Linked DNA regions of Homo sapiens. The protein of the gene in region 1 interacts with the protein of each later gene in a biochemical or structural test. Each region holds a gene or a part of one and is shown in the gene's direction. Other genes may lie near its edges. The genes, in order: KATNA1, PAFAH1B1, DCAF1 and NDEL1.

Region 1 (7,027 bases):
TTAGTTTTAAAATACATGGGCTCATTGTTTCTAAATCATGGAGATTATGGAATGAGGACCATAAGAGCAGGAGTTTAAAATGAGTTGACACATAACCCTGAAGAGTGTGCCTGTAGACTATGTTCTCGTGATCCAGGCTAAAAACTGTCAACCGCCAATAACTGAAGAAAAGGTTGTGCTCTTTATATATCTGCTGGTTGACATGGTGGGCCTCATCACAGTGCATTAGTTCACCCGGGCTCAGAGAGAGGCTCACCATTCTGTCAGCAGTGCAACATCATGTGCTTCCAGTGGTTCTCAAGAGTGACTGCATAGACATGTATCATCTAAAGGGTTGTTAATAAAATGTCTTCTCTTTCAGGGATGATATCGCTGATTTAGTAGAAGCTAAAAAGTTGCTTAAGGAAGCCGTAGTGTTACCAATGTGGATGCCCGAATTCTTTAAGGGCATTAGGAGACCATGGAAAGTAAGTTTATTACTGTGATGGCATTGTCAAAGTAAATGGCAGCATGTTGATACAGAGAGCCAATATTTATCTATATTGGGAAAAGTGGAGGGAGAAAGTGGAGTCAGGAAATGTTTAAATTAAAAGGTATATGTTGTGCTACTGAGAATTTTGTTAGACCAGAAGCTGTTGCATGATTCCTAGAATAAGAAATACATACAATGTGATCTTTGGAAAGTTGAATACACAGCATTAAAATTTAGAATTTGGCCGGGCGTGGTGGCTCACGCCTGTAATCCCAGCACTTTAGGAGGCCGAGGCGGGCGGATCACCTGAGGTCAGGAGTTCGAGACCAGCCTGACCAACATGGAGAAACCCCGTCTCTACTAAAAATACAAAACTAGCCGGGCGTGGTTGTGCGTGCCTGTAATCCCAGCTATCCGGGAGGCTGAGGCAGGAGAATTGCCTGAACCTGGGAGGTGGAGGTTGTGGTGAGCTGAGATCACGCCATTGCACTCCAGCCTGGGCAACAAGAGCGAAACTCTGTCTCAAAAAAAAAAAAAAAAATTAGAATTCACCCCATTTAGAATGAGCTCATATTTGCAAATATGACCTAGTCAGCTAATGCAAAAACACTCCATTTTATATGTCATGTTGCATGATTGTAACCTGTATTTTGGGGATTGTTCTCAATAAATTAATGAGAAATATCTGCATGTGATAAATACTTTTTAAAGTCATGGGCTGATCTAAAAAAAGACCATCAAAAAAGCTTTTCTTGGATTTGGAAAACACACTGATAGGTAACTCTGCATGTATGAATAGTTGTAAAAATCCTTTATACATTAAGTGATAAGCAAGATACAAAATGATAGATATACTTTGAATAAATTATATATATATATGTATTTTGTTTGTTTTGTTTTGAGATGGAGTCTCGCTCTGTCGCCAGGCTGGAGTGCAGTGCGATCTTGCCTCACTGCAATCTCCGCCTAACGGGTTGAATTGATTCCGCTGCCTCAGCCTCCCGAGTAGCTGGGATTACAGGCATGTACCACCACGCCCAGCTAACTTTTTTTGTATTTTAGTAGAAACGGGGCTTCACCATGTTGGCCAGGATGGTCCCAATCTCCTGACCTCGTGATCTGCCTGCCTCGGCCTCTCAAAGTGCTGGGATTACAGGTGTGAGCCACCATGGCTGGCCGAATAAGTTATATTTTTAAACAACCTAATTTGTCTGAGCAAAAGGACAATCAGGATATAAATCCAGATGCTAATGGTACCTCTGTTAGGGTGCTGATATTATAAACTACTTTTTCTCATCTTTGAGTTCCAAATTTTTCATAATGTGGTTATCTTCTTTTTTAACGGGAAGAGTAAATTTGTGACAAAGTATCCTCCTGTTTATCTGTTTGTCTTTTATTTGTCTTGATATTATATATAAGTTGGTCGAAATTTGCTACTTAGTAATGACACTTTTATGAATTAGAACAATGGCAGATAAATCCTCTGCTGAGGCTATTATATTCGCAACAGGGAGTACTGATGGTCGGCCCACCTGGCACGGGGAAGACGCTCCTTGCTAAAGCAGTAGCTACAGAATGCAAGACAACATTCTTCAATGTCTCTTCATCAACTTTGACTTCCAAATACAGAGGAGAATCTGAGAAGCTTGTTCGTCTTCTGTTTGAAATGGTGAATGTTTGAGACAGCTCTAATGATTCTTTACCTCTCTAAAAGGGGAGAAAGTGAGCTGTAACTATCTCCAGTATATGGAATAGTTAGGCAGGATGCCATTTTGCCCAGAGTATGAGTCCTATGCCCTTAAAGCTAGATTTCTTTACAAACATGAATAATTAGAGTTTCTCTTTGTCTCTTTTTCTCCAGATGTAGATCCAAATCTACCAGTTTTGGGGCATGCTCACATTATGGGATCTGCATTACTAATCTTCTGTAGGAATCTGAAATTATGTTTTTTAAATCAATAGGTTTAGTTATAATATGATAACCACAGTATTGTAACAATGATGCCAAAAGGTGAGAATCATAATTTATTGTGGAACTTAGGTCACCTCCGATCTATTAACTGCACCAAATGCCTTCATTTTAATGACCTAATCTTTGGATTAGGTTCTTTCTTCCACCAATACAAATCAGAGTACCAATAGAAGAAATGTAATTCAACAAGTTCTGGTAGAGTGTTTAGATTGAATTCCACAGCCTTTTAAACTTCAGACTTTGTTAAGCTTCACTGATTACGTCACTCTTGCCTCTAAGAAACAGAGTAGTTTTATGTAATTAGGATAGAGTTATGCTATTAGTGACAAAGACGTGAATCTTCTTTTTTTTGAAATGGGTTCTCAGTCTTGCCTAGGCTGGTATGCAGGAGCATGATCACAACTCGCTGCATCCGTGACCTCCCAGGCCCAAGTGCTCTTCCCATCTAAGCCTCCCAAGCAGCTGGGATGATGGACATGAGCCACCACACTCAGCTCATTTTTTTTTTTTTTTTTTTTTTACAGATGGGGTCTTGCTGTGTTGCCCAGGCTGATCTTGAACTCCTGGGTTCAAGTGATCCTCTTGCTTCAGACTCCCAAAGTGCTAGATTTATAGGCATGGGTCACCAATCCTGGTCAAGACATGAATTCTATTTTTTTTGACAGGGTCTCATTCTGTCACCTAGGCTGGAGTGCAGTGTTGCAATCTCGGCTCACAGCAGCCTTCACCTCCTAGCCTCAAGCGATCCTCCCACCTTAGCCTCCTGAGTAGCTGGGACTACACAAGTGCACTACCATGCCTGGCTAATTTTTGTATTTTTAGTAGAGATGAGGTTTTGCCATGTTGACCAGGCTGGTCTTGAACTCCTGACCTCAGGTGATCTGCCCACCTTGGCCTCCCAAAGTGTTAGGATTATAGGTATGAGCCACTGCGCCTGGCCTTTTTTGATTTTTTTGTAGAGATGAAGTCTCACTACGTTGCCCAGGCAGTCTAGAACTCCTGGCCTAACACTCCTCTTGCCTAGACCCCATAAAGTGCCGGGATTACAGGCAAGAGCCATTGTGTTCAGCTTTTTTTTTTTTTTTTTTTTTTTTTTAAGATAAGCTCTCACTATATTGCACAGGTTGTAGTGCAGTGGTTATTCACAGGCACAATCATAGCATACTGCATCCTCCTCTCTCAGCATCCCAAGTAGCTGGGACTTCAGTCGTGTACCACTGCACTCAGCTTTCAAGCCTTATTTTTATTGTCCTTAGGGTAATGAACTCTCAGCAAAGTTAGCCCTCATTTTGTCATAGTTCCAGCAAAAGTCCAAAGATTAATATTTGGCCTGTTTTGAGTTTCATACCTATGCCGAAACTCCTTGTTTTTGGTCAGAGAATTGGAGTGCTCTGATTGGCCAGGTCTGAATAAAACCCCTGGAGTTCCAAGTAAAGTTAGCCTCTTTTGAAGTAGTGGAATAGGAATGAGAGGGGCCCGGCATGGTGGCTCATGCCTGTAATCCCCGCACTTTGGGAGGTTGAGGCGGGCAGATCACTTGAGGTCAGGAGTTCGAGACCAGCCTGGCCAACATGATGAAACCCCGTCTCTACTAAAAATACAAAAATTAGCCAGGTGTGGTGGCGTGCACCTGTAATCCCAGCTACTTGGGAGGCTGAGGCAGGAGAATTGCTTGAACCGGGGTGGCAGAGGTTACAGAGAGAGGGAGAGGGGAGAGGGGAGAGGGGAGGAAAGAAAGAAAGGGATGATTTGCAAATGAAAAAGAGGCTTCTCTTACCAGAAGTGTGCTGTGCAGGGAGAACCAATTGGTGTCCTCTACCGTACCTTCCTGGGCCAGCTAAACCCAGGACACATAGCCTTTCCTTGAAGTCAGATCATTCTACATAACCTCAGTATGTGGGAAGAATCAGTCTAGTCACTTTTGCTTGGTGTGGCAACAGACTGAAGTTTAATTTTTGTTGATGTAGGTGCTTTTGATAGATGCTTCCTAAAATTTTAGTTGAGAATTTTCTTGGATGTTTTAATGATGATGAAGTTCACTCTTTCCCTCTCTCCATTTGTTGAAAAAGTACAAAAATATTTATACATAAAGACCCAAGTATTGACTCTCTTTAAAGATGAAATTATCCCACTAGGTACAGTGGCTCATTGTAATCCTAGCATTTTGGGAGGCCGAGGCAGGAAGATTGCTTGAGTCTAGGAGTTTGAGACCAGCCTAGGCAACATAATAAGACACCATCTCTACCAAAAATATAAAAATAAGCCTGGTGTGGTGGCACACACCTGTAGTCCTAGCTACTCGGGAGGTTGAGGTGAGAGGATTGCTTGAGCCCAGGAGCTCAAGGTTGAAGTGAGCCAAAATCATATCACTGCACTCCAGCCTGGATGACAGAGCAAGACCTTGCCTCTTAAAAAAAAATAAATAAATAAAAAACGGTTCATTAGAAGCCATATTTTAGCTGTTCTAATTCTATCCCATCTCCCCAGTATTAGCGTGAGAGAAAGATGCACAGTGTGGCAGGCTCCTTAGCTGTTTTGTTGTTTTCTTTCTTTCCTCTTGTTTTAGAGACAGGTTCTCACTCTGTCACCCAGTCTGGAATACAGTGGTGTGGTGTGATCATAGCTCACTGCAGCCTTGAACTCCTGGGCTCAAGGGATCCTCTCACCTAGCCTCCTGAGTAGCTGGGACTCAGACACGTGTAACCACACTCAACTAATATTTTAATTTTCTGTAGAGATGGAGTCTTGCTATGTTGCCCAGGCTGGTCTCGAACTCTTGGGCTCAATCCATCCTCCTGCCTCACCCTCCCAGTGTTGGGATTACAGGTGTGAGCCACTGTGCCCAGCCTCCCTCAGCTATTTTCTGATTGCTAATCTGTAGATTATTTTAAAATGAAATAATAGCTTAATAGCTTGATATTGCATGGTTTCTTCCTTTAGGCTCGATTTTATTCTCCAGCCACCATATTTATTGATGAGATAGACTCCATCTGTAGTCGCCGAGGGACTTCTGAAGAACATGAAGCAAGCAGAAGGGTGAAAGCGGAGCTGCTGGTTCAGATGGATGGTATCTGTGTTTAGCTTGAGTTGAACAGGGACGGGAGGTTGTTAGGTGTGGTGTCTCCAGTTCCAGTGGGTCAAACTTTACTCATAGTGCTAACCCAAGCTTTTAATAGGTATTCTTAACTTCAGATGGACTAGAGGGGGTGGCAAGAAGTTCCTGATAGTGATAGTAATAGATTTGGTACACTGACAGTGGTGACAAGTCAGAATTAATGGCCACACACAGGGCACCCTTTTGGTATATACAACTATCTTACTTTAGCTATGAAATTGAAATAAAAATAAATGCAGATAAATTGGCCTTAGAGTTTATGTACGCTTTGAAAAAGATTTAAAATTGTTATGTATTTGAGATCTGGCTTTTCGATTAAATCTATTTTGAGTCATATATTTGCATACTACAGAACTCATTTTCTTTGGATTACAAATTCACATAGGTACCAGTTAACCTAAGTCTTAAGGAGGCATTAAGACTGTGCTTCCTTGTATTGTTGTACTAAATAGTTGTTGATCTTTAAATAGCTGAGCTTCATTTGGTATAATCCAACTTAATATCTTTTTCACTCTCCCCTTACCCTTATTTTAGGTGTTGGAGGTACTTCTGAAAATGATGACCCTTCCAAAATGGTTATGGTTCTGGCAGCTACTAATTTTCCCTGGGATATAGATGAGGCTTTAAGACGACGCCTTGAGAAACGAATCTATATTCCTTTGCCGTCAGGTATCTTCCTTTCAATCTTGTCAGAAAGCCTGTTAACTTTCATGTAGTTTTGTTTAGAGAATTTAAAATTTGTTATTAACTAACTTTCTGGAAGAGATACATGAGGAGTATCTTCCTTTACAGTACTAGTTTGGCTATATGCCTTAATACTAAATAGTAAGGAATTAAAAAGTAAAGAATGGCTCTTTACTTAATTATCTCTTCTTAGAGATCCAATTCTTACTGGAAGACAACATCTCACACAAAGAAGATTTGAGACAATAGTATACTATGTTTATGCTGCAGGCTTACATTTTAAAATTTGTTTCTACCATTAGCAAAAGGCAGGGAGGAGCTATTACGAATAAGTCTACGTGAGTTGGAATTGGCTGATGATGTTGACCTTGCAAGTATAGCAGAAAACATGGAAGGTTATTCAGGTGCGGACATTACCAACGTGTGCAGGTATGAATTATCATGGAAGCATAGGTTTTTGTAAGCATAAACTTCTAGTATGAAGTTTTTTGGTTTTGTTTTTTGAGACACAGTCTCGCTCTGTTGCCTAGACTGGAGAGTAGAGGCGCAGTCACAGCTTACTGCAGCCTGAAACTCCTGGGCTCAAGTGATCCTCTGACGTGAAGTTTTTATGCTGAATTAAGACAGATCAATATCTTGGTGGTGGCTCACGCCTGTAATCTCAGCACTTTGGGAGGCCAAGTGGGAGATCACTTGAGCCCAGGAGTTTGACTGGCCTGGGTAACATTGCAAGACCTCATATCCATGAAAAAAATTTTAAAAATTAGCCGGGCATGGTGGTTCC
Region 2 (7,027 bases), on another chromosome or scaffold:
AAAAAAACAAAAAGTAAATAATCTTTGTGCTGGTATACCTCTGTTAGGCTGAATTTGGTTGTGCATAGAATTACACTTGATTTTTGTAGTACAAAGTTACTAGTTTTACTCAGATTAGTAGAGCATAGCTTTTTTCCAATATGGCTGGAAATACTTTTAAGTGTGCATTTAGTTTTGAAAGATTTTATTTCTTATACATATTTTATCTTCTAGATGTTGATTTTATTAGCTCCTTAATGATATGTCTGTTAGCTTATTGTTCCTACTTTAATTAACCAGGATTGTACATTTATTCTGTCGACTTGCATCTCTAACTTGGTACCATTCTCTTCATCCCAGTACATATTTTTATATCACTTCTGGGAAGTGTCCTGATGATTGTCATTCACAGTGTAAGTTATTATTTATATTGACAGCTACTGTGTGAAGACATTCACAGGACACAGAGAATGGGTACGTATGGTACGGCCAAATCAAGATGGCACTCTGATAGCCAGCTGTTCCAATGACCAGACTGTGCGTGTATGGGTCGTAGCAACAAAGGAATGCAAGGCTGAGCTCCGAGAGCATGAGCATGTGGTAGAATGCATTTCCTGGGCTCCAGAAAGCTCATATTCCTCCATCTCTGAAGCAACAGGATCTGAGGTACTGTATATACAAATGTCTTCATGGTTTTATTGCTGATATCTGAAGTCCTTAGATAACTTTGCTAATTCCCTGTTTCAGGGCTGTTAATGCATTTAAAAATCTGCATCCAGCAATTCTGAATCTTGAAATTCTCTACTCTTCACAGCTTGCTGATGTGTTTACATTATTTAACCAGTGATGATTATTGCTGTCAGCCTATCCTTGATTTGATACGTGATGGGTATTCTCCTAAAGAATTAAAATTTATCAGAAAAATCAGTGTTATGAGATCATCTCAATGTAAAACAAAACCTGAGGGAGAGGTTAAAGTTTTCTGTCAGAAAAATAGCCTTCATTAATGAAGATAATGATTTTATTTATAAATTTATGGTAAAATGCAGTTCAGTATTTATTTTTTAAAATTAATTCCAGATGTGATAGTATAAATGTTTTTTTAAATGAAGACTAATCCATATGGCAGCCTCTGATGTTCTTGATCATTTAAAAGTACTAGCTGAGCCTGGAGTTTTAACGCATTTCTTTGTGATCTTTATGGTTTTGGTCTTTATTATTAATATGTTAAAAATTACAAGGTACAGCGGCACATGGCTATAGTCCTAGCTACTCAGGAGGCTGAGGCAAGAGGATCACTTGTGTCCAGAAGTTAAAGTTCAGCCTGGGACAACATAGCAAGATCCCTGTTTCTAATAAATGAATGAAAATGAATGGTCTAAAACTTTTGTTTGTTTTTGAGACAGTCTCACTCTGTTGCCCAGGCTGGAGTACAGTAGCGTGATCTCGGCTCACTGCAACCTCCGCCTCCCAGGTTCAGGCGATTCTCCTGCCTCAGCCTCCTGAGTAGCTGGGACCACGGATGCATGTACCACCCTGCCAGCTAATTTTTATATTTTTAGTAGAAACAAGGTTTTGCCATGTTGGCCAGGCTGCTCTCAAACTCATGGCCTCAAGTGATCCGACCACCTCAGCTTCCCAAAGTTCTGGGATTACAGGTGTGAGCCACTGTGCCTGGCTTCACATTGATTTTGACAGAGGCATTCCTATCATGTATTTTTAAAACTACATGTCAATAAACAAAGGAGGCAGTTTCCTCTCCCTCTACCCCCATCCCACTTATTTTTCTAAATGAATCTTCTCTTGTGAGTTCTCTTTATTTTGATTGGCCCATTGCATTTTGAGATTCTGTTTACTGCCCTCTGGTGGTGGTTACATGCTGTATGTCATAAATTTGATTCTGGTGTGGTGGCTCACGCCTGTAATCCCAGCACTTTGGGAAGTCAAGGCAGGAGGATCACTTGAGCCCAGGAGTTTGAGCAACATAGCGAGACCCCGTCTCTACAGAAAACTTTTTTTTTTTTTTTAAACTCACCACTATACTAATGACGGAAAAAATTTTCAAAAACTTAGCTAGGTGTGGTGGTACACTCCTGTAGTCCCAGCCACTAGGGAGACTGAGACAGGAAGATTGCTTGATCCCAGGAGTTCAAAGCTGCAGTGAGCTATGATTGTTCCACTGCACTCCAGCCTGGGTGACAGAATGAGACCCTGTCTTGAAATAAATAAATATTCCCTAATCCAGATCAAAAAAATAAATAAGTAAATTTGGTTTTGGTTGGATTTGTAAAAGTTAAATTAAATAGTGATTACAGAAATCTTGAAAAGTAAATTTATTATCTGTTGGTTTTATGAAAACTGAGTCCTAACCTAAATAGAGACTTCTGTTCTTACATTATCTGAGTCCTTCCTGTGTAGCATAGGTATGGTGTGAAAGACTTGTGTATTTCAACAGATAAAAACAAATTGGGCTGGGCGCAGTGGCTCACGCCTGTAATTCCAGCACTTTGGGAGGCCGAGGTGGGCCGATCGATCATCTGAGGTTAGGAGTTCAAGACCAGCCTGCCCAACATGGCAAAACCCCATCTCTACTAAAAATACAAAAATTAGCCACATGTGGTGGTGCGTGCCTGTAATCACATCTACTTGGGAGGCTGAGGCAGGAGATTCGCTTGAACCCGGGAGGCGGAGGTTGCAGTGACCCAAGATTGCACCACGGTACTCCAGCCTGGGTGACAGAGCCAGACTCCGTCTGAAAACAAACAAAAAACCAAAATGCAACAAAAAAATTGGAAATATATATCATTATTAGATAGAAGCCATTTAAAGTCCATACCTAACTTCTTGTGTGGGAAACTTAATTTTTATTATGTTTTCTGTAGACTAAAAAAAGTGGTAAACCTGGGCCATTCTTGCTGTCTGGATCCAGAGACAAGACTATTAAGATGTGGGATGTCAGTACTGGCATGTGCCTTATGACCCTCGTAAGTTTGCATAATCTTACCATTTCTTTTGCATCTTCACTGTTTATACCTTTTTGGATTAATGCTTTATGATATCTTAAATAATCTGAATTATTCTGGGCTTTAAAATAACTTCTTTATAAAGATAGTTTTCCTTTAGCTTTTGTTGTTGTTATAGTGATGTGAAAGTTATTTCTCTAGAATGCAGATTCTATAAAGAATCTGTAGAGCCAGTCGGTGTTTGAGGGGGAGATGCTGCTAGCTCACTGTATCTTTAAAAATTGTGTAATATCTCGGCCGGGCGCGGTGGCTTACGCCTGTAATCCCAGCACTTTGGGAGGCCGAGGCGGGTGGATCACGAGGTCAGGAGATCGAGCTAACTTGGGGAAATCCCGTCTCTACCAAAAAATACAAAAAATTAGCTGGGCGTGGTGGCGGGCGCCTGTAGTCCCAGCTACTCGGGAGGCTGAGGCAGGAGAATGGCGTGAACCCGGGAGGTGGAGCTTGCAGTGAGCCGAGATTGTGCCACTGCACTCCAGCCTGGGCGACAGAGTGAGACTCCATCTCAAAAAAAATAAAATAAAACAAATGTGTAATATCTCTTACGGAGAAAAAGCAGCATTCTTAGAGACCTGTTCACTGTTGAAGATGTTTGTTTCTCTGTTTCACTTTATTTATATGAATCCTTTTAACTGTTATACCTCCTTGCTCACATGATCTAGTTTATTTGGCTTATTTAGGAGCATCTGTATTTCCATAGAAAGATATGTCAATACTAGTAAGGGATTGTGGACATTCCTATGTGCCTAAAGGAGTTCCAAGGAGATCTGTGGATGTTTGTTTAGTAGTAGTTTTTATAATTTGGCATCCACATTTGTTTAGAGATTTTTTAGGTGCTAATGATACCTTGAAGTGATTGTCTCTCTGTAGGATATGACAGACATATGTGGAAGCATCTTCAAGAACTGATTAGAAAATGAAACTCTCGGCCGGGCACGGTGGCTCACGCCTGTAATCCCCGCACTTTGGGAGGCCGAGGCGAGCAGATCACGAGGTCAGGAGATTGAGACCATCCTGGCTAACATGGTGAAACCCCGTCTCTACTAAAAATACAAAAAATTAGCCGGGCATCCTGGCGGGTGCCTGTAGTCCCAGCTACTTGGGAGGCTGAGGCAGGAGAATGGCGTGAACCCGGGAGGCGGAGCTTGCAGTGACCGGAGATGGCACCACTGTACTCCAGCCTGGGCGACAGAGCGAGACTCCGCCTCAAAAAATAAATAAATAAATAAATAAAAAGAAAATGAAACTCTCCTCTAGTAGTATTCTGAGCGGAGTTCAGCTATACCATGTTGCTGTTAAGAAAAGATGATATATAATTAAAATAAAGCAGGCCAGGCGCAGTGGCTCACTCCTGCAATCCCAGCACTTTTGGAGGCTGAGGCAGGTGGATCACCTGAGGTCAGGAGTTCAGGACCAGCCTGGCCAACATGGTGAAACCCCGTCTCTACTAAAATTACAAAAATTAGCCGGGCGTGGCCAGGCGCGGTGGCTCACGCCTGTAATCCCAGCACTTTGGGAGGCCGAGATGGGTGGATCACCTGAGGTTGGGAGTTCGAGACCAGCCTGACCAACATGGAGGAACCCCATCGCTGCTAAAAACACAAAATTAGCCAGGCATGGTGGCACATGCCTGTAATCCCAGCTACTTGGGAAGGCTGAGGCAGGCAAATCACTTTAACCTGGGAGGCGGAGGTTGCAGTGAGCCAAGATCACGCCATTGTACTCCAGCCTGGGCAACAAGAGTGAAACCATCTCAAAAAAAAAAAAAAAAAAACCCGGGCATGGTGGCGCACGTCTGTAATCCCAGCTACTCGGGAGGCTGAGGCTTGAGAATCGTTTGCACCTGGGAGACGGAGGTTGCAGTGAGCCGAGATCGCACCATTGCCCTCCATCCTGGGCAGTGAAGTAAGACTCTGTCTCCAGGAAAAAAAAAGAAAAGAAACAAGAAAAACATACTCTTGGCCAGGCACAGTGGCTCACACCTGTAATCCCAGGACTTTGGGAGGCCAAGGCAGGAGGAGCCCAGGAGTTTGAGACCAGCCTGAGCAACATAACAAGACCCTGTCTCTACCAAAATAAAAGTTTAAAAATTAGTCATGCATGATGATGCATGCCTATAGTCCTAGCTACTTGGGAGGCTAAGGCAGGAGGATTACTTGAACCCAGGAATTTGAGGCTTTAGTGAGCCGTGATCATGCCACTATACTCCAGCCTGGGCAACAGAGTTGCTGTCTCTTTTTAAAACAAAACAAAATTTTGCAGTGCTGTGCTATAACTGCACTATCCAGCGTGGTAGCTACTAGCCACATGCAGCTATTATACTCTTGAAATGTGGCTAGTGAGACTGAAGAACTGAATTGTTGGTTGTATGTAATCTTAATATTATATATTAAAGTAGGCGTACATGGACAGTAGCTACCATGTTCAACTGTGCAGTTCTAAGCCTTTTTCTTTAATGTGTAGATGAATGTGCTATTTTTTATAAAAATGGTATCATGCCCCTTAAGGTAGCTTTGTAGCAAACCTTTAATTTAGAAAGTATGTGATCCTTGCTTATGTTGTTAGATGCTCTTCTACACTGATCTACAGACAATGCTTTGTGAACATCTTTGCTAACTAAATCTCTGGGCATGTCCTTAAAGATAAATTGCAAGAACAGAACTGCTGCGACAGGGGAAATATGGATGGATAGATGGATGGATGATTAAATGGATGGATGATTAGATGGATGAATGATTGGATGGATGGATGGATGGATGATTGGATGGATGGATAGATGGATGATTGGATGGTTGGATGGATAGATGGATGATTGGATGGATGGATGGATGATTGGATGGATGGATGGATGGATGATTGGATGGATGGATGGATGGATGATTGGATGGATGGATGGATGGATGGATGATTAGATGGATGATTAGATGGATGATTGGATGGATAGATAGATGGGTGGGTGGGTGGATGGATGGATGATTGGATGATTGGATGGATGGATGGATGGATGGATGGATGGATGGATGGATATATAGATATATAGTGAATGCCTGTATATCCTTCACTTAGTTACCATTTGTTGGTTTTCCTTCATGTATGTGTGTATATTTTGCTGAAATCATTTGAGCGTTCTTTGCAGACATCGTAACACTTTACCCCCAAGTATTTTAGCATGAACCACCTAAGAACAAGGATAGTATATAAATAACCAAAATAAAATTATTCACACTCAAGAAATTTACCATTGATAGACTACATATTGAGATTTGTTCTTGTTATTTCCATAATGCCCTGCGGGACTTCTTTTTAACCCTCATCCAGGACCCAGTCAGGGATCGTACGTTATATTCACTCCTCATGTCTTATGAGTTTTCAGTTTCCTTTAATCTAGAATCCCCTAGACTTTTATTTTCTTCTGGTCTTTTGATGTTTTTGGTATGTATAGTTTTATCGTATTATGAAATAGATGCTATTTAAACATTTTGCCTTTTACTGAGTCAAATAACTTTTTTGTTTTTAAGGTGGGTCATGATAACTGGGTACGTGGAGTTCTGTTCCATTCTGGGGGGAAGTTTATTTTGAGTTGTGCTGATGACAAGACCCTACGCGTATGGGATTACAAGAACAAGCGATGCATGAAGACCCTCAATGCGCATGAACACTTTGTTACCTCCTTGGGTATGTACGCCTCGCGAGGTCTCTGAACATTAGATTTTGGAGTGCCAGACAAACTGTGTTTTACATAATCGTGTGGACTTTGCCAGGTAAGAAATGACTGTGCTTTCAGGGCAGAATAGAGAAGACATGAAAATCTTGTGGATTCCTACCATTTGTTTTAAATTCTCCTTTCCCGTTAACTCTTTCCATCGTTAGCCTTATAATAAAAACATTACTTTCTCCACTGCACAACATTGGTTTTGGAAACCACAATTTGTGAAGAGGTTACTTACCACTCTGATGGGTAATTTTTCTCCCCTATTAGTTTGTTTCTCAAACAAAATCTTCCTCAACCTTTCCCACTGGCAGGT
Region 3 (7,027 bases), on another chromosome or scaffold:
TTAAAGTGTCTTGCTACTACTTGACAACCATATATAATGTTTATATTACGTTCATATAAAATTGTCCTTTTACTCTTGGAATTCGACATACTGTTAGGATTTTCACAAATTAGTTTAAGGCAGAGCAGGACAAGGCCCAGAAAAGGGTGGCTGATGTAATCAGGAAACTGGGTAGGTTCTATTTGAAGATGATATAAAAAGAAATAAAACTGTTTTGAAAAAGATGGGGTCTTAAGAGAAGATAGTAAAAAAGTTTATAAACAGAGTGCTTGACCTTCTTTTCCTATTCACTCACTGCCATAAAGATAAGAGAGGGGCTTATTTAGGGGAATATAGTAAGTTTGTTAAATCCCAGCATTTAAATATTGTAAGGTACTCTTGGAGCAGGTGTTATTAAACTTTTTGGTTTCAAGATACCTTTACCATATTAATAATTACTGAGAACTCTAAAAGGCTTTTGTTTTTGTGTTATATCTATCAGTATTAGAAATTAAAACAGAAAATGTAAAAATATTTATGCATTAAAAATGTGGGCCAGGCACAGTGGCTCATGCTTGTAATTTCAGCACTTTGGAAGGACGAGGTGGGCAGATCACTTGAGGTCCGAAGTTTGAGACCAGCCTGGGCAATGTGGTGAAACCCCATCTCTACTAAAAATAGAAAAATTAGCCGGGGGTGGTGTTACGCACCTGTAGTCCCAGCTACCTGGGAGGCTGAGGCAGGAGAATCAATTGAACCCAGGAGGCAGAGGTTGCAGGGAGCTGAGATCACGCCACTGTACTCCAGCCTAGGCGACAGAGCAAGTCTTCATCTCAAAAAAAAAAAAGTGAACCCATTGCATGTTTGCGTTATTCATGAAAAATTTCCAAAATAAAACCAGATAATTTTAGCAAGTTTGAAAAAATGTCTGGCCTAATATCTCATATCTGCTTCTGTATTCAGTTTTTGTGACATCACATCATCTCTGGAAGACTCTCTTACTATGCAATGAGAGAATGAGAGTGCAAAAGGAAAGTGACATCTTATTATTACGAAAATAGCTTTGACTTCACAGGACCTTCTGAAAGGGTCTCAGACTTCTAGAGGTCTCCAGACTATACTTTGAGAAGTGCTGTTTTAGAATATTGGAAAAGTAGGTTATTATATTTATTTGGAGAATTGTTTAAAAAGTGATGATAGGCCAGGCGTGGTGGTTCATACCTGTAATCCCAGCACTTAGGGAGGCTGAGACGGGCAGATTGCTTGAGATCAGGAGTTCGAGACCAGCCTGGGCAATATGGTGAAACCCCATCTCTACCAAAAATAAAAAAAATTAGCCTGGTGTGTTGCCGCATGTCTGTAGTCCCAGCTACTAGGGACGCTGAGGTGGGAGGATTGCTTGAGCCCAGGAGGTAGAGAATGCAGTGAGCCAAGATGGTGCCACTGCACTTTAGCCGGGGCAACAGAGCAAGACTCTGTCTCCAAAAAAAAAAAAAAAAAAAAGATGACAGCTTACAAGATAACTAGAAAGGGTATAAATACATTTTTTAAACTGGTACATCTGTGTTTATTTATTTTTTTGTTGGTTTTGGAGACAGAGTCTTGCTCTGTTGCCCAGGCTGGAGTGCAGTGGCAGGATCTTGGCTCACTCCAACCTCCACCTCCCAGGTTCAAGTGATTCTTGTGCCTCAGTCTCTGAAGTAGCTGGGATTACAGACACGCACCACCAAGCCCAGCTACTTTTTGCATTTTTTAGTAGAGACGGGGTTTTGCCATGTTGGCCAGGCTGGTCTCGAACTCCTGGCCTTGAGTGATCTGCCTGCCTCAGCCTCTCAATGTGCTGGGATTATAGGCATGAAACACGGTCCGGCCTGTATTTGGATTATTGAAAAAATATGTCCTTGATTTTAAAAATTTATTTTTAGAAATAAAATTAATAAATGTTTCTGCTTTAGAATATGCAGAATCTTTTAAAGAGAAAAGAAAATTACTCTTAGCATTCACTACGTAATATTTGCAAATACACATAATTAATATTATACTTTTAATCAAATTCATCTTTTTTATGAATATTTTCAAAACATAGAAAGGCACAGAGAATAGTTTAACAACTGCTCCATCATTAACCAGGATTGGCATGTTGTTGTATTTGCTTTTGGCTCAGTTCTTTTTCTGCCTCCCCAGAGTCACCCATCTTCTGAATTTGAACCATATTCTCCCCACTCATGTTTTTATACTATATATATCTGTGTGTTCATAAATAATAACGTCATACTGCTTTGCATGTTTTTAAATTATAAATATTTTCCTAAGTTCATCTTTCACAGCTTGCTTTTTTTACCCTTATATTCTTGAGATTTATATATGTTGATATTTATTTAAAATGCTGTATTTCTATACTGCAGTTTATTCTGCCATTGATGGCTAATTTAGTGTTTTTGTTTGGTTTTTTTGGCTATTAAATAAATGGTATCATGAACCTCCTTTTGGAGGCTCTCTTGAGGATATGATGTAGAGCATCTGGTTTGTAGGGTGTCTGTGTTCTTACCTTTATTGGATATTGCCAAATTGCTTCTAAAAATGTTCATACCATTGTCATCCCCCACCAGCAATATATAGGAGCTTTCATTTCTCTACTTTTTTTTTTCTTTTTTTTTTTTGAGGCAGAGTCTTGCTCTGTCACCCAGGCTGGAGTGCAGTAGTGGTGCAATCTCGGCTTATGGCAACCTCCGCCTCCTGGGTTCAAGCGATTCTCCTGCTTCAGCCTCCTGAGTAACTGGGACTACAGGCGCCCACTACCATGCCCAGCTAATTTTTGTATTTTTAGTAGAGACAGGGTTTCACCATATTGGCCAGGCTGGTCTTGAACTCCTGACCTCGTGATCCACCTGCCCTGGTCTCCCACCACACCCAGCCGGTTTTTTCTTTTTTAACTACAAAAGACATCCAACATTTCTCTACTTTCTTGCCAGTACTTGGTATTGTCAGATTTTTAATTTTATATCTTACATTTTTTATTTTTATATCATTAATGTTGTATTTTGAACCCTTTCCCTCATTCTTTAGGGTTCTTTGAAAATGATTGTCAATGGCTGTAGTTTATGAGTGTACTATACTCTAACACATATGGTGCTCTTGTCTATGTGGGTTTTCTCATTCTTTTGCTATTTTAATGTGGCTAATGAACATCTTAATACATAAATTCTTCTGATTATTTCTTTCTTTCTTTTTTTTTTTTTTTTTGAAACGGAGTCTCACTGTGTTGACCAAGCTCGAGTGCAGTGGTGTGATCTTGGCTCACTGTAGCCTCTGCCTCCCAGATTCAAGCAGTTCTTCCTGCCTCAGCCTCCTGAGTAGCTGGGATTACAGATGCCCACCACCATGCCTGGCTGGTTTTTGTATTTTTTAATAGAGATGGGGTTTCAACATGTTGGCCAGGCTGGTCTTGAATTCCTGACCTCAGGTCATCCGCCTGCCTCAGCCTCCCAAATTGTTGTGATTACCGGCGTGAGCCACTGCACCCGGCCTGAGTCTTTTTTCTTTTCTTTTTTTTTTTTTGTGGAGACAGAGTCTCTCTCTGTGGCCCGAGCTGGAGTGCGGTGGCTCAATCTCAGCTCACTGCAACTTCCGCCTCCTGGGTTCAAGCAATTCTCCTGCCTCAACCTCCCGAGTAGCTGGGACTACAGGCGCCCGCCACTAAGCCTGGGTAATTTATTTTTTTAATTTTTATTTTAGTAGTGACAGGGTTTGGCCATGTTGCCCAGGCTAGTCTTGAACTCCTGAGCTCAGGCAATCTGCCCGCCTCAGCCTCCCAAAGCACTAGGATTACAGGCATGAGACCACGCCTGGCCCTGGCCTGATTATTTCTTTAGGACAGATTGTCAGAGGTGAAATTTCTAGGACAAGGTTTATGAACATTTTAAGAATCTTGTTTCATATTTCCAGATTACTTTCTTTTTCTTCTTTTTTTTCATTTTTCTTTTTTTTTGTTTTTCGAGACAGGCTCTCACTCTGTTGCCCAGACTGGAGTGCAGTGGTGTAATCACGGCTCACCACAGCCTCAACTTCCTGGGCATAGGTGATCCTCCCACCTCAGCCTCCTGAGAAGCTGGGACTACAGGCACGTGCTACCACACCCGGCTAATATCTTATATTTTTTTTTTATAGAAAAAGATAAAACCATGTTGCCCATTCTGGTCTCAAACTCCTGGGTTCAAGTGATCCTCCCACCTTGGCCTCCTAAAGTGTTGGGATTATAGGCTTGAGCCACCGTGCCTGGCCTCCAGATTACTTTCTGGAAAGAGTGTACTAATTTCTACTCTCACCAAAACTTTGAGAGTACGTGTCTCTATATGTTTTCACTAGGATGAAAGGATTCAGGATTATTCTATGTTTTTTATCATAGAAGTTTAATAGGTAAAAATTCCATTGCTATATTTTTTGGAAGTAATGTCATGGTGACTATAAAATCCTCTCTTGATGCGACAGCTTGAGATAGAGCCACACTGGTAGTGCTTCTGATTTATTGTCTCTGTGTGTATGTGTCTATCTGTCTGTGTGTCTCTCTCTCTGTCTCTCTTGATTCTTGTGGCTATACTCTAATTTCCCTTTGACTAATTCTTCCTGTCCAGGAATGACACTGTGCGCTTTGCTTTGGATGTCCTGGCTATTCTTACTGTGGTGCCAAAAATCCAGCTCCAGTTGGCAGAATCAGTGGACGTGTTGGATGAGGCTGGATCTACAGTCTCTACTGTAGGTAGGTTGTACTTTGCCATTTTTGTTGTTTCTTGGTCTGGATTTGTTTTTTCTTTGCCACTCTGGTCTTGGTTACTTACCTGACCTAATTTTGGATTTTAGAACAGAAGTAGTAGAGGGGGGCTCCTTGTCTGTCCTTTATAAGGAGTACCATTCAGCAGATCAGGAACTAATTTAAAAAAAAAAACCAAAAAACAAAAATACAAATGTAGGACCAGATAGTTTGATGTAAGGGAGTCATGCTAGTAAACTCAGGTTTTCTGAGTGGTACTGGCATTTCTGCTATAATGGTATATTATAGCTTTCCTGAAAAGCTCACACTCTGAAGAGTCTTGCACTAAAAATAAAGTTCATGGGAAAAATGGGTTGAGGCAGATAGTAAAAAACTTAAGCATCACAGCTTTCCAGGAGTTAAAGGGAAAAAAAAACAACAAAGTAAGCAGTTTTGTAACCTGAGTCAGTAATTGGCAGGTAGCTCAAAATGGGTAGAAACCGTCATACATATATAAAAAAAGGAAAATATACTTTGATAATATACTTTATTAAGAGCAAGGCTGATCAGGGCACTGCTGGGGTGAGCATGGGAAGTCGTGTGATGGGACAAGATGCAGGATAGGACTAAGACACAGGCACTTGGTTTTTAATTTTCTTAAAATAGAGTGGAAAGGGTTCTGCTTCCACAGTAGCAGCCCAACCGAGGGCTTTCTCCGTTCCTAAGGTTTTAGTGTATTAAAATTAATAAACCAGAAAAGGTCGAGCACAGTGGCTCACACCTGTAATCCCAAAACTTTGGGAGGCCGAGGCGGGTGGATCACCTGAGGTCAGGAGTTCCAGACCAGACTGGCCAACATGGTGAAACCCCACCTCTACTAAAAATACAAAAATTAGCTGGGCGTGGTGACAGGCGCCTGTAATCCCAGCTCTTTGCAGGGATGAGGCAGGAGAATCACTTGAACTCGGGAGGCGGAGGTTGCAGTGAGCCAAGATCACGCCACTGCACTCCAGCTTGGGCGACAGAGCGAGACTCTGCCTCAAAAAAATAATAAAACCAGAAAAAATTGCACATGAACCTTGATTACTTTTCCATAATTATGACATGATTTCCCTATTTAATAACTGCATATGAGATACCATAAAAATACATTGTAGTAGAACTGTCTGCACTTTATACAAACCCTTGCAGTTTTTACAAAAGTAATATAGTTTTTTAAAGTAAAAGTGAGTAGAACACCAAATTTTGACTCTGGAACAACTATTGAAGTTGGCCATTAGTTTTATGGTGAATAATACATAATTTTTTTTCCCATTAGGTATCAGCATTATTTTGGGAGTGGCTGAGGGTGAGTTCTTCATCCATGATGCTGAAATTCAGAAGTCAGCACTTCAGATTATCATCAATTGTGTGTGTGGCCCAGATAACCGAATATCCAGTATTGGTAAATTTATCTCTGGTACTCCTCGGAGAAAGCTGCCTCAGAACCCTAAAAGCAGTGAGCACACCCTGGCCAAGATGTGGAATGTGGTTCAGTCCAACAACGGCATCAAGGTGCTCCTGTCCTTACTGTCCATTAAGATGCCCATCACAGATGCAGACCAAATCCGGGCCCTGGCCTGCAAAGCCCTAGTGGGCCTGTCTCGCAGTAGCACTGTCCGGCAGATCATCAGTAAACTGCCCCTTTTCAGCAGCTGCCAGATCCAGCAGCTGATGAAGGAGCCTGTGCTGCAGGACAAGCGCAGTGACCATGTCAAGTTCTGCAAGTATGCTGCTGAACTCATTGAACGGGTGTCAGGAAAACCACTTCTCATTGGCACTGATGTTTCCCTAGCACGACTGCAGAAAGCAGATGTTGTTGCCCAGTCAAGGATCTCCTTCCCTGAGAAAGAGCTGCTTTTGTTGATACGAAACCATCTTATTTCTAAAGGGCTTGGAGAAACAGCAACCGTGCTGACAAAAGAGGCTGACCTGCCCATGACTGCTGCCTCCCATTCTTCTGCCTTTACCCCAGTCACTGCTGCTGCTTCTCCTGTCTCTCTACCCCGAACCCCTCGTATCGCTAATGGCATTGCAACTCGTCTGGGCAGCCATGCTGCTGTGGGTGCCTCTGCGCCTTCTGCCCCTACTGCTCATCCTCAGCCACGGCCCCCCCAGGGTCCGCTAGCTCTGCCCGGCCCATCTTATGCAGGCAACTCCCCTTTGATTGGTAGAATCAGTTTTATCAGAGAGAGGCCATCACCCTGCAATGGCAGGAAAATCAGAGTGTTGCGGCAGAAGTCGGACCATGGTGCCTACAGC
Region 4 (7,027 bases), on another chromosome or scaffold:
CCAAGTAGCTGGGATTACAGGTGTGTGCCACCACACCCAGCTAATTTTGTATTTTTAGTAGAAATGGGGTTTCACCATGTTGGTCAGGCCAGTCTCAAACTCCTGACCTCAGGTGATCCACCCACCTCAGCCTCCCAAAGTGCTGAGAGTACAGGCATGAGCCACCATGCCCAGCCTACAATGTTTGTTTCTAAAAAGCATTTAAAGCAACTTACCATAAAAGCACAGATTTAATAACACCTAAAATGTAAAACTTGAATAGGGAAAAATGAGATCTAGAAATCCCTGCCAAGAACAGTACAGCGGTTTTTTATATCACGTTGAGCGCCTGTTATGTGTCATGTGTTATTCTGGATGCTGGGAGCACAGTGGTAAGACAAAGCCCCTACCTTCAATGAGATTATATTCTTGAGGAGAAGAAGGATAATAAACAACAAAAAAGCCACACAAGTATTTTCGTTGCTGATTAGCACTCTGTGGAAAACAAACATAAAAAATAATAGCTAACCTTTATTGAGTACTTACTACGTGCATTTTTAAAGTACATTAATTTAAACTTCACAACATCTTTATGATGAGGTAGTTGTTATTTGCCCCCTCTTACATATGGGTCACTTACCCAGTGGCTGAACTGGATTTGAATACAGTAGTTCAGCTCAAGAGCCGTTAATCATGATGTCATATTATCTCTTAAAAATTAAGAAATGTGCACGACTGAAAACCTTACTGAGTGTGGAAGAAGATATGGGTAAATATCATGGTAAATACTATGATTCTGAATGGGAAGACTTAATTTTCTTACAATATCCATTCTCCCCAAGTCAATCTGTAATTTCAACTTCTAATAAAAATCCTAATAGGATTTAAAAAATTGATATGTTGATATTAAAATTATTTTGGAATAGTAAATGTGCAAGAACAGCTGAGAAAAATTTGAAATGGGCTAATAACAAGAGGGATCTTTGCCTTTTGAGATCTCAAAATATATTTTAACATTATAATAAAGTAGCATACTTCTGATAGAATAGGCTAATAGTTCAATGGAACTGAAATATATTCATATATTTAGGGAATTTAGTTTATAGTTATAGTGCTATTTCAGATGAGATGAGTTTTCCCTAAATGATACTAGGACAATTGGCTCTCCATTTGGAGGAAAAAATTTAGATATGTATCTTATAGACAACTATAATTTCTAGGTGAATTAAATGATCTAAATGTAAAAAAATCAGAAAAATACTAGGAGAAAGTATGGGAAACATTATGACATTAAGATGGAAAAGCCAAAGGTTCTCCTACCGAAACACAGTGTTTACAAGATGAATGTCACGCTGAGAGATAGAACATCTATAAGAGAAAGGGTGAACATCCAGAATGTATAGAGTTCTTACAAATTGATTACAGGAAAGACAAACCAGTAGAGAAATGTACAAAGACTAAACAGCTGATTTTCAGAAGAGATTCAAATGACTAGTTACTATGGAAATAGAAACTAAAAAACGTGACTATCAAATTGTCAAAAAAAAAAAAGATAATATCTAATATTATCAAGGGCACCACCGCATAGATTGCTGATATTAGCACAGGCTTTTTAGAGAGCATTTTGGCAGTGTCTGTTAAGGTGAAAAAAATGGGCATATGTTCTGACCCAGCAGTTCTATTTTTAGGAATCTCTTTTCCAGAAATACTTGTCTAGATGTTTAAGAGTATATGTCCTTGTAGCATTACTTATAATGGCGAAAAATTTGATATAATGTAAATATCCACCAATTGGACAGTGGTTTAGCCTATTTATGGTATCTATACTTTATCCATAGTTTGAAGTAGTTTGTTGATATTGTATTGAGTGTTACACTACTTTGTAACATCAACAACAAAACCCAAATGTAAAGGGAACTGCAAGTGTAATCACTCAGCTTTTATTTTTCTCTAGCTATACCAAATGGTTTTGGTACCAGTCCACTAACTCCCTCTGCTAGGATATCAGCACTAAACATCGTGGGGGATCTCTTACGGAAAGTAGGGGTAAGTTTCAATTATTTATCACTAGGTGTTTCCACTGACAAGGTATTGAATTATTTCTTAATTTGAAGTGAGGGAAGAAAGAAAGGATACTTTCCTGTGGTAAAGGCTGTCATGAAGCTCAGAAGCAAAAGCATCCATTGACTAGCCAAGTCCAGATGACACTTCATGATGCCCCTGCAGAAGAGCCTGTACCTTGAACTCTGAGGTTCCCACCGGGGCATTCTTCCTGTTCCCCACTCCTGTTTCAACAGCACGATGCCTCTGTCCTTGTCTAGAATACTTTGTCTAAGGCCTGCTGTGTGTCTTCTACCACCCTCATCCTGGTCTTTGCTGCTGTCTACCGTCTTCCTGGTCATTCCTTTGTTTTGTGTTTGTGGGACTTTAACATTTGGCTCATGGCATTACTCTCTACTTTTAGTCTTGCCCACCTTATTTCCTTGGCCACCTCAACTTCAGTGCCTTCTCCTTGGTGTGAGCCTTGTATTCCAGAACAGTTTCGCTTCTGAAATATTAAACCCAGCCGGACGCGGTGGCTCACGCCTGTAATCCCAGCACTTTGGGAGGCTGAGGCGGGTGGATCACCTGAGGTCAGGAGTTCAAGACCAGCCTGGCCAACATGGTGAAACCCTGTCTCTACTAAAAATACAAAAATTAGTCGGCATGGTGGCAGATGCCTGTAATCCCAGCTACTTGGGAGGCTGAGGCAAGAGAATCACTTGAACCCAGGAGGCGGAGGTTGCAGTGAGCCGAGATCGAGCCACTGCACTCCAGCCTGGGCAACAGACAGCAAGACTCCATCTCAAAAAAAAAAAAAAAAAAAAAATTAAACCCGTTTTTCTGCTTAATCAGTGTGTTACTGTGTACCATACCTACTCTTTAACCTCATCAAGAGTATTACCCCATTTTTTAGTGTGTTTGTTTTTATCAGCCATCTCTTGCTTTCACTTCCTTTCTATTCATCTGTGATCTCACACATCTCTTACTCTGTCACTGTTGACTTCATGGTCTCTCTGGCCACAAAGGAGATCTGCAGTCTGAATTACTGGAAACAGTTGCAGAACCATGTGGATTTATGCCACTATCAAGTCAGCATTTCTAGCATTAGCTCCCATTACTATTTCCCTTAGTGAGTTTTACCTCTCCTTTCAGTAATCAACCATTGCCATTTCCCACTATCTACTACCCCCTTCACTTATTTTCGTGTGTGACACTTTCTAAAAAATGTAGAAATTGCATTATACTTTATCTAAAGCAGATATGGGAGGCCAAGACACAGGTCCTATGTTTGCCTGTTTCAGCTCATCATAGGGGTTATTTTCTAACCATCAGATTAAACCTGCATTTTTAAGGTTAAAATACAAAGTAAAGTGCACAGGTCGTTCCTACAGTACATAGAGTAATCTTTCTTCACTCCCAAGATAACCATTTTAAAATCCTCTATGTTGGAGTATTTGTCTTTATAACTTGAAATCATGTGCTTATTTTTCTGTTTATCTTGATTTACTCAACTTTAAGCAAAGATATTTTTATTTTTATTTTTTGTTCTTTTAAAAAAATTACTTTAACATTCTTGAACTTTTGTTTCTGAATGTATTAGGTTATATCTTTTTTTTTTTTTTTTTTTTTTTGAGAACGGAGTCTCGCTTTGTTGCCAAGGCTGGAGTGCAGCGGCACGATCTCAGCTCACTGCAACCTCTGCCTCCCAGGTTCAAGCGATTCTCCTGCATCAGCCTCCTGAGTAGCTGGGATTACAGGCACATGCCACCACACCTGGCTAATTTTTGTATTTTTAGTAGAGACGGGGTTTCACCATGTTGGCCATGCTGGTCTTGAACGCCTGACTTCAGGTGATCTGCCTGCCTTGGCCTGCCAAAGTGCTGGGATTACAGGCATGAGCCACCATGTCTGGCCAGTATTAGACTATATCTTAACTCGCTGTTCTCTCCCTTTCTTCCCCACCACACTCCCACTCCGCTTTCCTTTTCTGAGCCCTCTACTAGCTGTGTGAGCTCTCTGTTGGTTGGTTCTAAAAATGGAAAAGTAGTCAAACAGCATTTGTAACAATGCACATATATGTGTTATTTACTGTGTAATCACAGAGGAGATGCTGGACTTTCAGATGGGTCTTTATATTTGTGCCATTCAACAAATGTGTTTTGAGAATTTTGTTCTTTAACTGTAATTTACTCAAAATCATACTGGGTTTTTAAATATTTCGTATTGTAGCTGACTGTACGCTGCTTTCTTTTCCTAGCATTTCTGTTTCCCCTTCTTTCTTTTGAGTAGAAGAAACCTACACCTTTCTTTGCTCTCGGATCTTCTAGCTTCTTCTTCACACTCTTTGTGGGATGCCCTGATGGGCTTCGAGGGCTGCTGCATTGTTGTCGCCCTCGAATTTCTCTCCATTTTACTCTTGGGTTAGTTCTGCCTGTTCCTCACCCCACGTTGTTGTCTGTCTTTGTTCCTTGTTTGTTTTGCTTTAGTACTTTAATTTATTCAGAAGTGGTGCATGAAAGTTTAATTTGGCATCCTTGTATGGTTTACACATTCAGCTGACAATCCGTCTTCTAAGAGTTATCAAAATAACGACCTCCAAAAGTCATCAACACTTTGGGTCTGCTGGTGTCCACCAGCCCTTGTTGGCTTTTATGAATATTTCATTTATGCCTCTTTACACGACTTTGTCCACTGACTTGAACTGGAAGCCCTTCTCCACTCTTGCATGCCTTCACAGAGAAAATCAAGGCCATTTGTTTTAAGCTTCTTTGATTTCTTTTCTCATCTTTTGTTATTACTCTCCTATTATTACCTCTATTTGTAGCCATTCCTCCTTTTTGTCCCAGTGGTAAAAGTGCAAATTCCTGTCCGTGGCTAATTTTGTCCATCTGTGCTTTGGATCTCATTTCTTCCAACCCTTAAATCTTTATTTCTCCTGTATTTCAGCCTTTTACTATATATGCGTTAATATTTATGTATAATGTTTATGTATTACACATTATATGTTATGTGTTATACAGGTATACTTTGATATTTCTGTATTACATGTTATCCATATAAATATATGTAATACTTATGTGGTACATATTACATACTTTAAAGCTTCTTGAAAGCGTGTCCCCATTTATTGTTAGCATTTTGACTGCATGCACACGCCCCAGACACTTTAGCCTGGGCTCTGTCCCCTGCTTATGCCGCTAAAACTGCTCACTGGTGATCTCAGTGCTGTCAAATCCTGTGGATGCCGTTCTGTCCTAATTTTACTTGAAGCATTCAACACTGACCGTTTTTTTTTTTTAATGCCCTCTTTTCTCTCCTTCTCTGATGCTGTTTCATGGCTGCTCCCAACTTTCTTTCCATTCCTCTTAGTCATCTTGTTGGGTCTTCATCTGCTCACCCTTTCGATATTGGTTTTACTCAGAGTTCTGTCCTTGATTTTCTGATCTTAATCACAGCCATAGTTTCATCCACCCCTGGGTGTGGATGTCTTTCAAATCTTAATCTCTAGACCACCCTTTCCCCCCTCAAAAGACCTGGTGCTCGTGCTTGGATGTCTCACTGATGTCTCAGACATAAGTTGTGCCTGCCGTGTGATAGATACTCAATATGGATTTGAATGAATGCGTGTCTTGAATATAGGAATTGAATGGCTCTCAATTTCTACTGTGTGTGTGTGTGTGTGTGTAGCTTTAATAAGCTGCTGAATTATTGCTGAATTATGCTTATTCAGAGTTTGTTTTACAAGGTCATTACCTCTCTTCCTTTTTTCTGTTGTCATTTTAGTAGGTCATTGTACTTTTGTCATAGGAAAGAAGGAGAAGAAAAAAGTTTGTCTGTTTTTGTTGCTGTTTCTTTTTTTTGAGACAGAGTCTCACTCTGTCGCCCAGGCTGTAGTGCAGTGGTGCTATCAAGGCTCACAGCAATCTCTGCTTCCTGGGTTCCAGTGATTCTTGTGCCTTAGCCTCCTGCGTAGCTGGGATTACAGGTGCATGCCACCACACCCAGCTAATTTTTTTATTTTTTCTTTAGTAGAGACAGGGTTTTACCATCTTGGCCAGGCTGGTCTCGAACTCATGGCCTCAAGTGATCCACCTGCCTTGGCCTCCTAAAGTGCTGGGATTACAGGAATGAGCCACTGCACCCAACCATTGTTGCTGTTTCTGAATAGCTGTTATTGAAATGTGGGGGGAGGAGGTCCAAATGGATTCTCAAAGTGAAGTATATGTTACCTGTGGATTTAATTTAGCTGTGCATTCCCAGTCCTTTACTGTCATGGATAATAGACATGAATTGTGTATATATATATTTTGCCATGGATAGTATTTTTCTTTTCGGAGAAGGAGGGGTTTGATTTGGGCAAAGTGTTTATGGGAAAGAGACAGCTGGTGAAGTGTGAGTGTGTGGAAATACATGAGAAACGCCTGATCTCTCCATGTCATCTGCGTTGGTAGAGCCCTGTGCTTGCCAGGTGTTGTGGTGACAGGTGCAAAACAAGGGTGCCCAATTTAGAGGTAAATGCTAAAAGGCCAGTGTCATTTGCGGGTGAATTATTTAATTACAGACAAAGGGTATCAGTTAAACATTTTACAGAGTGCTGTCAGAAATAAAATAGCTTTTAATTTCATGTAAAGTGTTGTAAATGTTCTCATCCATTCTCATGCAGTAGAAAAAATGAAGAACCTAGAGAAAGAATTGGCTGCCGTAAAAAAAATTCTCAAGTGATATTTTTGGGTTTTTTAATAGTGCTTGCTCCCAAAACACACCCTGCCCCCCAACACCAACTAACAGTCTACAGCTTAGAAACGAGCAATGGATAGGGTCAAGAGACCTGGGATCTGCTGTTCCACCTCCTGTACCACACTTTTTTTAGTTGTAAGGGGAAGATTATATGTATTTCCTTCAGTAACGCTAAGAGGAGGAAACAAAATATTCTGAGGTCATTAGAAAGGGAGCATAAGTATTCCCCCTTTTTATTAGAAAGTTGATTGATTATGGCTGAACTAAC

The links.
Region 2: the proteins of KATNA1 (region 1) and PAFAH1B1 form a complex in vitro, tested with the Homo sapiens proteins (one study listed by BioGRID).
Region 3: the proteins of KATNA1 (region 1) and DCAF1 form a complex in vitro, tested with the Homo sapiens proteins (one study listed by BioGRID).
Region 4: the proteins of KATNA1 (region 1) and NDEL1 form a complex in vitro, tested with the Homo sapiens proteins (one study listed by BioGRID).

The regions. Positions count from the first base shown.
Region 1 is NC_000006.12:149,596,708-149,603,734, reverse strand, and holds part of KATNA1 (katanin p60 ATPase-containing subunit A1), read left to right. Parts: intron 1-361; coding exon 362-467; intron 468-1,982; coding exon 1,983-2,141; intron 2,142-5,384; coding exon 5,385-5,511; intron 5,512-6,093; coding exon 6,094-6,228; intron 6,229-6,545; coding exon 6,546-6,672; intron 6,673-7,027. UniProt on the Homo sapiens protein: Catalytic subunit of a complex which severs microtubules in an ATP-dependent manner. Microtubule severing may promote rapid reorganization of cellular microtubule arrays and the release of microtubules from the centrosome following nucleation.
Region 2 is NC_000017.11:2,673,644-2,680,670, forward strand, and holds part of PAFAH1B1 (platelet-activating factor acetylhydrolase IB subunit beta), read left to right. Parts: intron 1-416; coding exon 417-645; intron 646-2,861; coding exon 2,862-2,963; intron 2,964-6,520; coding exon 6,521-6,677; intron 6,678-7,027. UniProt on the Homo sapiens protein: Regulatory subunit (beta subunit) of the cytosolic type I platelet-activating factor (PAF) acetylhydrolase (PAF-AH (I)), an enzyme that catalyzes the hydrolyze of the acetyl group at the sn-2 position of PAF and its analogs and participates in PAF inactivation.
Region 3 is NC_000003.12:51,420,015-51,427,041, reverse strand, and holds part of DCAF1 (DDB1- and CUL4-associated factor 1), read left to right. Parts: intron 1-1,033; exon of another isoform or gene 1,034-1,132; intron 1,133-4,610; coding exon 4,611-4,735; intron 4,736-6,044; coding exon 6,045-7,027. UniProt on the Homo sapiens protein: Acts both as a substrate recognition component of E3 ubiquitin-protein ligase complexes and as an atypical serine/threonine-protein kinase, playing key roles in various processes such as cell cycle, telomerase regulation and histone modification.
Region 4 is NC_000017.11:8,452,863-8,459,889, forward strand, and holds part of NDEL1 (nuclear distribution protein nudE-like 1), read left to right. Parts: intron 1-1,933; coding exon 1,934-2,025; intron 2,026-7,027. UniProt on the Homo sapiens protein: Required for organization of the cellular microtubule array and microtubule anchoring at the centrosome. May regulate microtubule organization at least in part by targeting the microtubule severing protein KATNA1 to the centrosome.